Homo sapiens: one gene and its partner. The protein of the gene in region 1 purifies or fractionates together with the protein of each later gene. This does not show direct contact. Each region holds a gene or a part of one and is shown on either strand. Other genes may lie near its edges.

Region 1 (7,032 bases):
GAGGGAGGGGCATAGCGGATGGGAGGACCCCGAGTGAGGGAGGGGCATAGCGGATGGGAGTCAGAGGACCTGGATGAAGCCCAAACACTGGGACAGGGTCCCGGCATCAGGACGAGTCCTTGGGGCTGTGTCAGGTCTGGGCTCACGATGAATCCAAGAATCATATGGGGCCTGAAGGCCGAGACAGCGTGAGCATGCGAGTGACCCCCTAAGCCTGATTTGCCTGGGACTTTTCCAGTTTTAGCACTGAAAGCCCTCGTCCTAGGAAACTGCTCAGTCCCGGACAAACCAGGATGGTTGGTCACTGTGGTAAGGAGGACTCTGGGGTCCAAGGATCATGACATTTCCAAGTACCTTGACGAGGTCTCGGGATTACAGCAGGAACTTAAGATCATCCTAGCTCTTTGGGTCATGATATAACACCCCTAGGCTCATGCCAGCACTGACACAAGTTCAAGCTGAGGAATGAGAAGCTGTCCAGGGACAAAGTCTAAGCAGGTTACCATGCCCCGTGTAGCCCTCAGAGGACCCTTCCTCCGGACATGACATCCCCTTAGGAGATGCTGGCAGTCAGCAAGCCCCCAGCCCCAGCAGACCATTGGGGCCTCAGCCTCCTGGAGGCCTCCCATGGAGGGGTCGTGAAGGCAGGCGGTTCCTCACCCTCCCCTCTCCCCTGTAGCGAGCTCCTGGAGGACTTGGAGAACAGCAGCAGCGCCGGGGGTATTGCCGAGTGCTTCGTGCAGAGGGTGAGTGGAGGGGTGGGGGGCTCTCGGTCCTGGATGGGGCCTTTGTAGAGGGGGGAGAGCAGGCTTGGGCTAGGCTGGAAGGGGGGTCGTGGGAAGCCAGGACCTGGGGTCTCCCTGACTCCCATGTCACCCGCAGAGCGAGGATTTTGACATCTACACATTGTACTGCATGAACTACCCGAGGTGAGGGGCAGGAGCCCCTGCTGGGCCTCAGGCTGTGCCCACAAGCTGATGTGCCAGTCACCCGTCACCCTCCCTCTACCCCCGACCCATCCAGCACCGACCCCTGCCAGGCTGTGACAGTAACTGACCTCTCCCTCACTGCCCCGCCCCCTGTCAGACCCTGACCCTTCCCAAACCCTGGCCCCTCCCTAACCCCTCTTGACCCCGCCCACTGGAACTGACAATCCCCACTGACCTGTGCTGTGCCCCCAGCTCCCTGGCCCTGCTCCGGGAGCTGTCGTTGTCTCCGCCAGCAGCCCTGTGGCTGCAGGAGCGCCAGGCCCAGCTTCGCCACTCGCTGCCCCTGCAGAGCTTCCTGCTGAAACCTGTCCAGCGCATTCTCAAGTACCATCTGCTGCTGCAGGTCAGCTGGGGCCCCTGGAGCCAGGCTGGGGAGGGGGAGGTCCTGTCCCTTGACCACCTGTTGGTTCATCTGGAGGATGGACCCCCCACGAGTTGGGCAAGGCCTCCCAAAGTGCTGGGATTACAGGCGTGAGCCACCGCGCACAGCCCTAGCTTTTTTTTTTCCCTTTGAGGTGGAGTTTCACTCTTGTCGATGAGGCTGGAGTACAGTGGTGCGATCTTGGCTCACTGCAACCTCCACCTCCTGGGTTCAAGTGATTCTCCTTGCTCAGCCTCCTGAGTAGCTAGGATTACAGGCGCACACCACCATGCCCAGCTAATTTTTGTATTTTTAATAGGGACGGGGTTTCACTACGTTGGCCGGGCTAGTCTCGAACTCCTGGCCTCAGGTGATTTGCCCACCTCAGCCTCCCAAAGTGCTGGGATTACAGACATGAGCCACTGCGCCTGGCCTCTGCCCCTATCTTTATATTTCTCCATCTCCTGTTATTCTCATTCTCTTTCTCCTTCTCTGTTTCTCTCCCCATCCCTGCGTGCCTGGTGGCTGCCTGACAGGAACTAGGGAAGCACTGGGCGGAGGGCCCAGGCACTGGGGGTCGCGAGATGGTGGAGGAAGCTATTGTGTCCATGACAGCGGTTGCCTGGTACATCAACGACATGAAGCGCAAGCAGGAGCATGCAGCGCGCCTCCAGGTGGCCCCAGGGTGGGCTGGGGCTTGCTGGATGAGGGAGTGAGCGAGGGGGCCTTGGGGCGGGTGGGGGGAAATCAGTGCCTCAGAGGTAGCCTTGGAGGGTTGGCTGGGACAGCATGGCCCTGTTGCTAACCCCCTGTTTTGGTGTGTATGTGTGTGCCACCTACCCATGCTTGTCTCTGCGCCCCGGCGCACCTGGCGGGGTCCCGGCAGGAAGTGCAGCGGCGGCTGGGTGGCTGGACCGGACCAGAGCTCAGTGCTTTTGGGGAACTGGTGTTGGAGGGCGCGTTCCGAGGAGGCGGAGGGGGTGGCCCCCGGCTACGAGGGGGTGAGCGGCTGCTCTTCCTGTTCTCTCGGATGCTGCTGGTGGCCAAGCGCAGGGGGCTGGAGTACACCTACAAAGGCCACATCTTCGTGAGTTTGGGGATGGGGTGGGGCTAGAATACTACCTACAAAGTATATCCCATATACCTGTATCTGTGTGCCCGGCAGTGTGGGCCAGGGGACCCTGCCACATTTTCTTGAGTTAGAGAATGGAAGCCAAGGGAAGCTTTCTTTCTAGTGTATAGAATGAGAGCTGCCCCACTTAAGAAAAAAAAGGAGAAGGCTGGGCGTGGTGGCTCATTCCTGTAATCCGAGCACTTTGGGAGGTCAAGGCGGGCGGATCACTTGAGGTCAGGAGTTCGAGACCAGCCTAGCCAACGTGGTGAAACCCCGTCTCTACTAAAAATACAAAAATTAGCTGGACGTGGTGGCAAGTGCCTGTAATCCCAGCTACTGGGGAGGCTGAGGCAGGAGAATTACTTGAACCCAGGAGGCGGAGGTTGCAATAAGCCAAGATCATGCCACTGCACTCCAGCCTGGGTGACAGAGCAAGACTCTGTCTCAAAAAAAAAAAAGGGAGAGGAAACCCACCATACAGCCTTATGGGATGCATCTTCCTAGGGAGGAGGACCCAGATACACCTCCAAGGGTGTCTCCGTACAAGGGGCATCACTGAGCCCAAGGACTCTGAGCTTGCTACCCCTCTCTTTCCTTCCAGTGCTGCAACCTGAGCGTGAGCGAGAGTCCCCGAGACCCTCTAGGGTTCAAGGTGTCTGATCTGACCATTCCCAAGCACAGACACCTGCTCCAGGTGAGCATGTAGTGGGATCAGGCTGGCAGGGATCCCCCAGCCTCGAGACCTCACACCTGGCCCCCTGACTCTACTCCAACCCACTCCTAGGCCAAGAACCAAGAAGAGAAGAGGCTGTGGATTCACTGTCTCCAGCGCCTCTTCTTTGAGAACCACCCTGCCTCCATCCCTGCCAAGGTACAGCTCCTGCCGCAGCCGGGGGCCCTCTGAGTGCTGGAGACACCCTCCCCCAATAGTACTAAGAGACGCCCCTGCCCAATGCCAGAGCAGTCTGTTATAATGTGATTGCTAAAAGTGCAGAATTCCGCTACTTGGGTTTGAATCTTAGCTCTACCATGTCCCTGCTTTGTGACCTTGGGCAAGTAACTTAACCTCTCTGAGCCTTAACTTCCTCACCTAGAGGAATGAAAGCGCCTTCATCCTAGGGTTGTGGTGATGAGTAATGGTCACCAGCCACGTCATGGGCTTGACCAATAGAAGCACCCATCAGCTGGCTGTGGTGGCTCATGCCTATAATCCCAGCACTTCGAGGGGGTGATGTGGGAGGATCATTTAAGCCCGGGAGTTCGATACCAGCTTGGGCAACATAGTGAGACCCTGTCTCTAAAAAACATTTTTTAATTAGCTGGGGCTGGCCAGGCACGGTGGCTCACACCTGTAATCCCAACACTTTGGGAGACCAAGGCGGGCGGATCACCTGAGGTCAGGAGTTCAAGAGCAGCCTGACCGACATGGAGAAACCCCATCTCTACTAAAAAATACAAAATTAGGCCGGGCGCGGTGGCTCATGCCTGTAATCCCAGCACTTTGGGAGGCCGAGGCGGGCGGATCACGAGGTCCGGAGATCGAGACCATCCTGGCTAACATGGTGAAACCCCATCTCTACCAAAAATACAAAAAATTAGCCAGGCGTGGTGGCAGGTGCCCGTAGTCCCAGCTACTCGGGAGGCTGAGGCAGGAGAATGGCGTGAACCCAGGAGGCAAGAGCTTGCAGTGAGCCTAGGTTGCGTCACTGCGCTCTCCAGACTGGGCAACAGAGTGAGCCTCTGTCTCAAAAAAAAAAAAGAAAAAGAAAAATTAGCTGGGCATGGTGGCGCATGCCTGTAATCCCAGCTACTAGGGAGGCTGAGGCAGGAGAATCACTTGTACCTGGGAGGCGGAACTTGCGGTGAGCCGAGATCATGCCATTGCACTCCAGCCTGGGCAAGAAGAGCGAAACTCCGTCTCAAAAAAATAAAAATAAAATAGCTGGGCTGGACGTGGTGGTTCACGCCTGTAATCCCAGCACTTCGGGAGGCCAAGGCGGGTGGATCACCTGAGGTTAGGAGTTCAAGACCAGCCTGGTCAACATGGTGAAACCCCGTCTCTACTAAAAACACAAAAATTACCGGGTGTGGTAGCGGGCACCTGTAATCCCAGCAACTCAAGAGGCTGAGGCAGGAGAATCGCTTGAACCCAGGAGGCAGAGGGTGCAGTGAGCCGAAATCGCGCCTTTGCACTCCAACCTCGGCAACAAGAGCAAAATCTCCGTCTCAAAAAAAAAAAAAAATTAGCTGGATGTGATGGTGCACATATGAAATCCCAGCTACTCAGGAGGGTGAGGTGGGAAGATCGCTTGATCCCAGAAGTAGAGGCTGGAGTGAGCTATGATTGCACCACTGTACTCCAACCTGGCGTATAGAGCAAGATCTAAAAACAAAAACAGCACCCATTAATGGGCATGACTACGGTGCTTAAAGTATCCTCTCTGTGGTACTCCAAGATCGACCCACCTCAGCCCTCATCCTCCTGTCTTTCAGGCAAAGCAAGTTCTCCTTGAAAACAGCCTGCATTGTGAGTTGGGGCCTTGGGCTGGGAGGGTGTGGAAGTAGACGAATTACTTCCAAGAAAAAGTTGGCTTTTAGCCCCAAAACTCTCCCCACAGGTGCCCCCAAAAGTAAGCCTGTCCTAGAGCCCCTGACACCCCCACTTGGGTCTCCTCGACCTCGAGATGCTAGAAGTTTTACCCCTGGGCGAAGGAACACAGGTAAAGGCGGTGGATCCCTGAGTCCCAGCCCTCAGCCCCACTTCCCTAGGACCCGGGAGCTGGGCTCACACAGGGCTCTGGCCCTCCCTCCCACAGCTCCATCTCCTGGGCCCTCTGTGATTCGCCGAGGCCGCAGGCAGTCTGGTGAGCACTCACCCCTAAGGGTGATCCAGGCATCGGGGTGGGAGCTGGGCTCCTGACATCACTGTGTCCTCCCCGCAGAGCCGGTGAAGGACCCTTATGTCATGTTCCCACAGAACGGTCAGTGACTGCCCCGGTTCAGCCTGGTCCATCCCTGTCTGTCGCCCGGTGGGATGTCTGGGGCGGGTTGGGGAGGGGTGGTTGCTTCAGCTCATCAGTTATGGGGGAATCACTCTTTTTCCCTTACATCTCACTAATGCTTCTCTCTCTCTCATCTCTCCATCCTTAGCTAAGCCTGGATTCAAGGTAAGAGATATCTCGAGATAGGGTCTGGGCACCTTGACTTCTGGGTCTGATGGAGAAGGGAGCTTGAGTTCCAAAATCCTGGGTCTGAATGAGAAGGGGATTGGGGCCAGACAGAGTAACTCATGCCTGTAATCTCAGTATTTTGGGAGGTCAAGGCAGGAGGATTGCTCGAGCCCAGGAGTTTGAGACCAGTCTGGGCAACATGGCAAAACCCCATCTCTACAAAAAGTACAAAAAAATTAGCCAGGCACACTAGTGCATGCCCATAGTCCCAGCTACTCAGGAGACTGAGGTGGGAGGATTGCTTGAGCCTGGGAGGCAGAGGTTGCAAAATGAGCTGGGACACACCACTGCACTCCAGCATGGGTCACAGTGAGACCCTGTCTCAAATAAATAAATAAAAATTTTAAGAGAAAAATAAAAAAATTTAAAAATTGAGCCAGGTACGGTGGCTCACCTGTAATCCCAGCACTTTGGGAGGCCGAGGTAGGTGGATCATCTGAGATCAGGAATTTGAGACCAGGCTGGCCAACAAGGAGAAACCCCGACTCTACTAAAAATACAAAAATTAGCTGGACATTGTGGCAGGCGCCTGTAATCCCAGCTACTCAGGAGGCTGAGGCAGCAGAATCGCTTGAACCCGGGAGGCGGAGATTGCAGTGAGCAGAGATGGCGCCATTGCACTGCAGGCTGGGCGACAGAGCGAGACTCCATCTCAAAACAAACAAACGCAAAAGAAGGGGATTGGGACTTGGGGTCCTCTATGTGAGGGAGGAGTCTTGGCTCTTGCCTTCCATTGCTTTCCCTCCTCACAGCACGCTGGCAGCGAAGGGGAACTCTACCCTCCAGAATCTCAGCCACCAGTTTCAGGCTCTGCACCCCCTGAGGACCTGGAGGATGCTGGACCCCCAACACTGGACCCCTCTGGGACCTCAATCACTGAAGAAATCCTGGAACTGCTGAATCAGCGAGGCCTTCGAGATCCAGGGGTGAGCTGGCTGTCCCATCATGGTGTCCTTGGGCCTCTGGGTGTGGGCACACAGACCAGGGACCAGATAGGCCAGCCCATGCTGATACCTTTATTTTTTTTTTATTTGAGATGGAGTCTTGCTCTGTTGCCGAGGCTGGAGTGCAGTGGCGCCATCTCGGCTCACTGCAAGCTCTGCCTCCCAGGTTCAAGCGATTCTCCTGCCTCAGCCTCCTGAGTAGCTGGGACTACAGGCACCCGCCAACACACCCGGCTAATTTTTTTTTTTTTTTTGTATTTTTAGTAGAGACAGGGTTTCACTATGTTGGCCAGGCTGGTCTCGAACTCGTAACCTCAAGTGACCCGCCCACTTCAGCCTCCCAAAGTGCTGGGATTACAGGCGTGAGCCACCACACCCAGCTACCATGCTGATA
Region 2 (4,840 bases), on another chromosome or scaffold:
GGGCCCAAATGGGCAGCTTCCTTAGTGAGCCACATCCACAAGAAGGAGCGAGGGTGTCATTCAGCTGGCAGGTGGAGGCAGCCGCAGTTGAGATGGTCACGTTCAACCTGGACCCCAGGCTCCAGAGGGCACAAGGGGAAAGGCACACCGAGGAAGCACCCAACAAACAGGGACCAAGATGGCTTCTCAGTGCCATGCTTCATCAGGGATTCCCTCCCTAATCCCCTGGCCAAATCAAACCAATTCATCGTTTTCTTTCTTTTTCAGGGATGTGAAAATCTGGGAAATACTATTTTAGGTCAGAGTGGTTTCTGTTTGTTTTTAATTATTTATTTATCAATCAAGTGTGGTTTTTACAGGTTTGTTTATAATTCCTATGTTCTGTGCGCCTGCACTAAAGTGAGTATATCCTGGAAGGAAAATAAGTCATTTAGGTTTCTGGATTAGGAGTATCACCTTATAGCGATTCCACCAGGCAGAATGAAAAGACAGGAGGCAGGTTATTCATATGCTGCTTTATTTCTGTAAGGATACACTGAAACGTTAGATGATAATAGCTAATGACAGAATGTAGAAATGAGGCATCAGCTTCTCTAACCACTCCTACAAGAATGTTAGTATGTATTGTCATTACATGTTTACTTTTGATATTGTCTCATTATACTATGTCATATAATAATGTAGAATACAGTAAGTAGGTGATCCTGCATTTCAGGTAAGCGGTAGGTGGAAATCCAGATTTCCTCTTGAGGAAAAGTCCTAGGAATCACAACAGAAGGGACTTTGCAGTCCTCATTAACACATGGACAAAGAGCAGACAACTACTACGTTACAAGGGATTCAACTAGTCACTGTTGTGAAATGTCATATCCATGTTGATGACAGCCCTGGCGCCTGCTCAACTCCCCCTCTAGAGTTTTGCGGTTACTTCCGTAGGATGAATTTCAGCACTGCAGGAACATCTGAGGGGGCTAAAATATTTTCATGCAAGTTTCCAAACCCATAAACTATTTTGCTATCAATTAAAACAAAAATATTAATTAAAAACAATAAAAAGGACAGCAGGGTTAGTTTTGTTAAGCTTCCAGAAGTATTCGTTGTGACGATGTTCCTCTGAAACAGGCTCGTTTTCTCAGGTCTTTCTACACTTCCCAAATCACCTGCATGTTCCATGCTTTAAAGTAGGAACGCTCAGAAAACATGCCACACGGGGAAACCAAACGTTAGTACGGGGAAAGGTCAGTTTAGAATTACAGCTAAGTTCAAATGTTAATTTTCTGGAAGTTCGTGTTAGTTATTTGAAAGCACAAAAGAACAGAAGGAAGGGCAGAGTTCTGATGAGGAAGTTAAACCATGCATGTCAGTAGGGTTCTTTTCCTGCTCACAGAAGAGGGTGAGCAGTGAGTTGGAGCAGCCGCTGCAACTCTTGCATGTCGTGTGTCTACACGGTGGGTCCCAGCTGAGGCATGAGAGGCATCTCAGTGGGGGTTTTATCTCCTATGCTTCTTGCTTACATCACTAAGTGGCTAAATGATTAGCACTTTTCTGCTCTATGAGAAACATGCAGAAGAGTCAATCTACCTAAGTTTTCATTTTTAAATTGCAGCCGGACAGAAATTCACTTTGCTGCAGGGTTGCTTTTTGCTAAATGCTAATATGATCACTGTGTGCCCTTATTTGAGTAATACTGTAAAATGGGAGAAAAGACGGAAGGAGAACTTTAAAGAAGGGAAGGACCACTCTTCCCCTATTGATGGTATAGGGCAGAAAGTAAGGACACAAAGAACGAGATTCAAATGCCATTTTACAGGACAGGAGCCCCTGTCAGTTTACAGCTTTTTGGCACAGTCGGGACAATACACTTGCTCCTGGTGGAAAACAAAGCGCTTGTTGGCCAGATTCACGGAGCATTTTTTGCAGTGGAAGCAGTAGTCGTGCCAGGATTGTCCTTCATAGGCCACCACACTGGAGCCTTTACCAAACCCTGGGGGGAAAAAAAAAGAAAAGAAAAGAAAACAAGAGAAACAGCTGAATGAATACAGGTGAGGAAACCACGATTCAGAGAGATAAAATGACGACCTGCCCCACTCACAGACCGACAAGCACGCAAGAGCCAGGTCTGCCTGGCTCCCAGACCCCCTCCTCCACTCCATCGTGCACAGTCCCCCACGCCGCCATTGTCCCCCATGCCGCCGCAACCCTGCTGTGGCTCTCAAGGACCTGAGAAGATGCTGAAGCCCGGCCAAGGGCTTCCCTGATGTAAAGACCCCACGTTCCCATGCCACCACGCTATTGCCCTGTGACGCGCACCGACCTCCCAGCATAACCAGTTTCTTTGATTTAGGTCAGGGCCATGACATCAAAGTGGCCACCAGGAGGCAAACTTGGGCTGTTCGTGGGGTGTGCACTTACCGGGCCTCGAGGAGCTGCTAAGCTTCGATTTTTTCTATAAAGAACCACCACCCACGAGGGACAAGTCCTCTCTCCACCCGGATGCCTGCCCCGGAGGTTGGCGCTGGGAAACAGGGTGAGAGGCAAGCGTTTCCCGTGGCACACTGGGGGCTTCCTAGCTTTAGAGACTGGGTGGCTCACTCTTGACACAGTCCTTTTCCCTGAGGATGGCAAAAGTCTTCTCAAATGTACATTTCAAGGCTCCCCGGGAAGATGGGAAAATTGGAGGCAAGGGAAAGGGCCCAGGGCACGTGGATCGCGGCCGCGAGATGAGGAATGAAGTGATTAGCTTTGCTGATCGCAAAAACAAATAAACAGCAAACCAAAAAAAAAAGAAACCCTGCCAACAGGCATCTCTGAACTAGCCTTCAGCTATGGGGTATTACAATCCCGGGTTATCACTCTTCGGCCTCCCTTACCCCTTCCCCACCCTCCCCCACCCCCTTCTTTCTACCCTCCTCCCACCCCTCCCCCCAGAATCCCCCTGCAAAGTGGCAGTGCCTGCCGGTGTTGGCTGGCAGGTCTCAGGCTTGTGAACTCTCAGCATTGTTAGTCAACAGTCAGGAAGTGTTCTGTATTGCAAAGGCTAACCTGGCCTGGGGACGAATCCAAACTCTTGGGGGGCCTTTGGGACCACAATAGCAGGGGGAGAAGGGCATTCTCTGGGGGCCTTTGTGGATGAAACCGACGACAGGAAAATGAGAGATGGTTACCATGCGCAAAACCTAGCCTGGCAGACTTAGCAAGGACTCTTTAGCCTACCAGTGATGGGGTTCTTGCATCCAGCACACTTCTTGGCCACAAAGTTCTTGTAGCAATCCACGCAGTAATACTGGTCCTCCACAGCGGTGAAACGCTGCCCAGCCAGCTTCTTAGAGCAGGTAACACACACAAAGCAATCGGCATGCCAGGGCTGATCCTGGTAAGTGATTCCTCCAGATGTGATGGCCTAGACCAGGGAGTGTAGCACCGGATTCAGATTCAACAACCATTTTGTTGAATGCCTACTGCGTGCCAGGCACTGTGCTGGGCGCTTTGGTATACAATATCTCATTTAATCTCCACAACAGCCATGGGAGGCAGGGGCTATTATTATCCCCACTTTACAGATGAAGACACCAAGGCTCGGAGAAGGTGAGCCCCTATGTGAGGTTACACAGCCCCTAAGTGGTGGAGGCAGGCTTCTAGAGCCAGGGCTGCCCAGCTCAGCATGCCATACGGGCCACCCGCACCACCAGGCTGAGGATGCGTACTGACAGCCTGACTTGGCTGTGGCACTGCTTCCTAATCCACGATCTCCTCATCTGTAAAACGGGAATAATAATTCCTACGTCACAGGGCTGTCGTGAGGATGGAATGGGATAGTGTGTGTGGAAGTGCTCTGCAAACTGTCAAACACTTCTAGAAACAACGGTCAATGCAGAACTCCCTTGAAAGCATACCTTGTTGCACTTCACGCAATGCTTGGCAAACTTGGTCTCATGGCAAGTCACGCAGTAGAAGTCCTCCCCTTTAGGGAAGAAGCTTCCAGTCCCGATGACTTGCTTGCAGTTACTACAGGTGAAGCAGTCTTTGTGCCAGACGGTCCCCTTGTACTCCACGTTTTGATCTCCTGCAGAGGGAAGCAATTGGATAGCCCCACTGACAGGCTCTGCAGGGGGCTGCATCCACTCAGCTCCCCTCCCCAGGCCCTCCAGAGGTGAGGGGATGCAGGCCCTGCAGTTACTGGCCTCACACCTCCAACTAACCTACCTGTGTTCTACTTGTGCTTGTGCCAACCCAGGATTTCTGTCATGGGTGGGGACCCCAGCATTATTATTTTAGGATCCAGTGCCTGAATCCCCCACTCCCCCACCTCTATACCCTGCGTGCACTTAGACATTAAATCAGGGACTGCCTGGCCCAGAATGACACCCTGAGGAAGAAGCATGCTTTCATCACTTACTACGCCCAAATGAGAAAGCGCTACATACTGTTCACTTCATTCTGTTGCCACAGGCTGTTCTCGCCAGTGTTCTTTAGTCTCCGAGTGTGTGCGTGTGTGCGAGCATATATGTGTACGCATATATACGTGTATGTATATGTGTACATATATATGCTAAGATCTCAAAGCAGCTCAGAGCAACGTTAGCCCCACCATGATAAGCAAGCCCACATCACGTCTGCCCTCAGGGCCTCCTCCCTGGGAACCCGGGGTGGGAAGGAGGCAGTACCTGCCACAATGGCCTTGAAGCACCCCTTGCACTTGGGGGAGTCCTCCCGAGTGGTGCACTTGTTGCACAGGATCTTGTTGTCCTTGGCCACAAAGGTCTCATTGGCCAAGGGGTGAAGGCACTTGGCACAGCGGAAGCAGGTGTCATGCCAGAAGCGGTTCTTATAGTGCACCTCC

What was found. The genes of interacting proteins can lie anywhere in the genome.
Region 2: the proteins of PLEKHG2 (region 1) and FHL1 purify together in Homo sapiens (affinity purification with western blotting; 2 studies listed by BioGRID). This does not show direct contact.

Annotation. Positions count from the first base shown.
Region 1 is NC_000019.10:39,415,669-39,422,700, forward strand, and holds part of PLEKHG2 (pleckstrin homology domain-containing family G member 2), read left to right. Parts: intron 1-679; coding exon 680-746; intron 747-882; coding exon 883-929; intron 930-1,181; coding exon 1,182-1,332; intron 1,333-1,886; coding exon 1,887-2,024; intron 2,025-2,236; coding exon 2,237-2,437; intron 2,438-3,065; coding exon 3,066-3,158; intron 3,159-3,248; coding exon 3,249-3,335; intron 3,336-4,957; coding exon 4,958-4,991; intron 4,992-5,082; coding exon 5,083-5,184; intron 5,185-5,280; coding exon 5,281-5,328; intron 5,329-5,406; coding exon 5,407-5,445; intron 5,446-5,614; coding exon 5,615-5,631; intron 5,632-6,446; coding exon 6,447-6,620; intron 6,621-7,032. UniProt on the Homo sapiens protein: May be a transforming oncogene with exchange activity for CDC42. May be a guanine-nucleotide exchange factor (GEF) for RAC1 and CDC42. Activated by the binding to subunits beta and gamma of the heterotrimeric guanine nucleotide-binding protein (G protein).
Region 2 is NC_000023.11:136,207,015-136,211,854, reverse strand, and holds the end of FHL1 (four and a half LIM domains protein 1), read right to left. Parts: intron 4,840-4,840; coding exon 4,665-4,839; intron 4,064-4,664; coding exon 3,894-4,063; intron 3,401-3,893; coding exon 3,214-3,400; intron 2,613-3,213; coding exon of another isoform or gene 2,413-2,612; intron 1,985-2,412; coding exon 1,830-1,984; 3' UTR 501-1,829; downstream 1-500.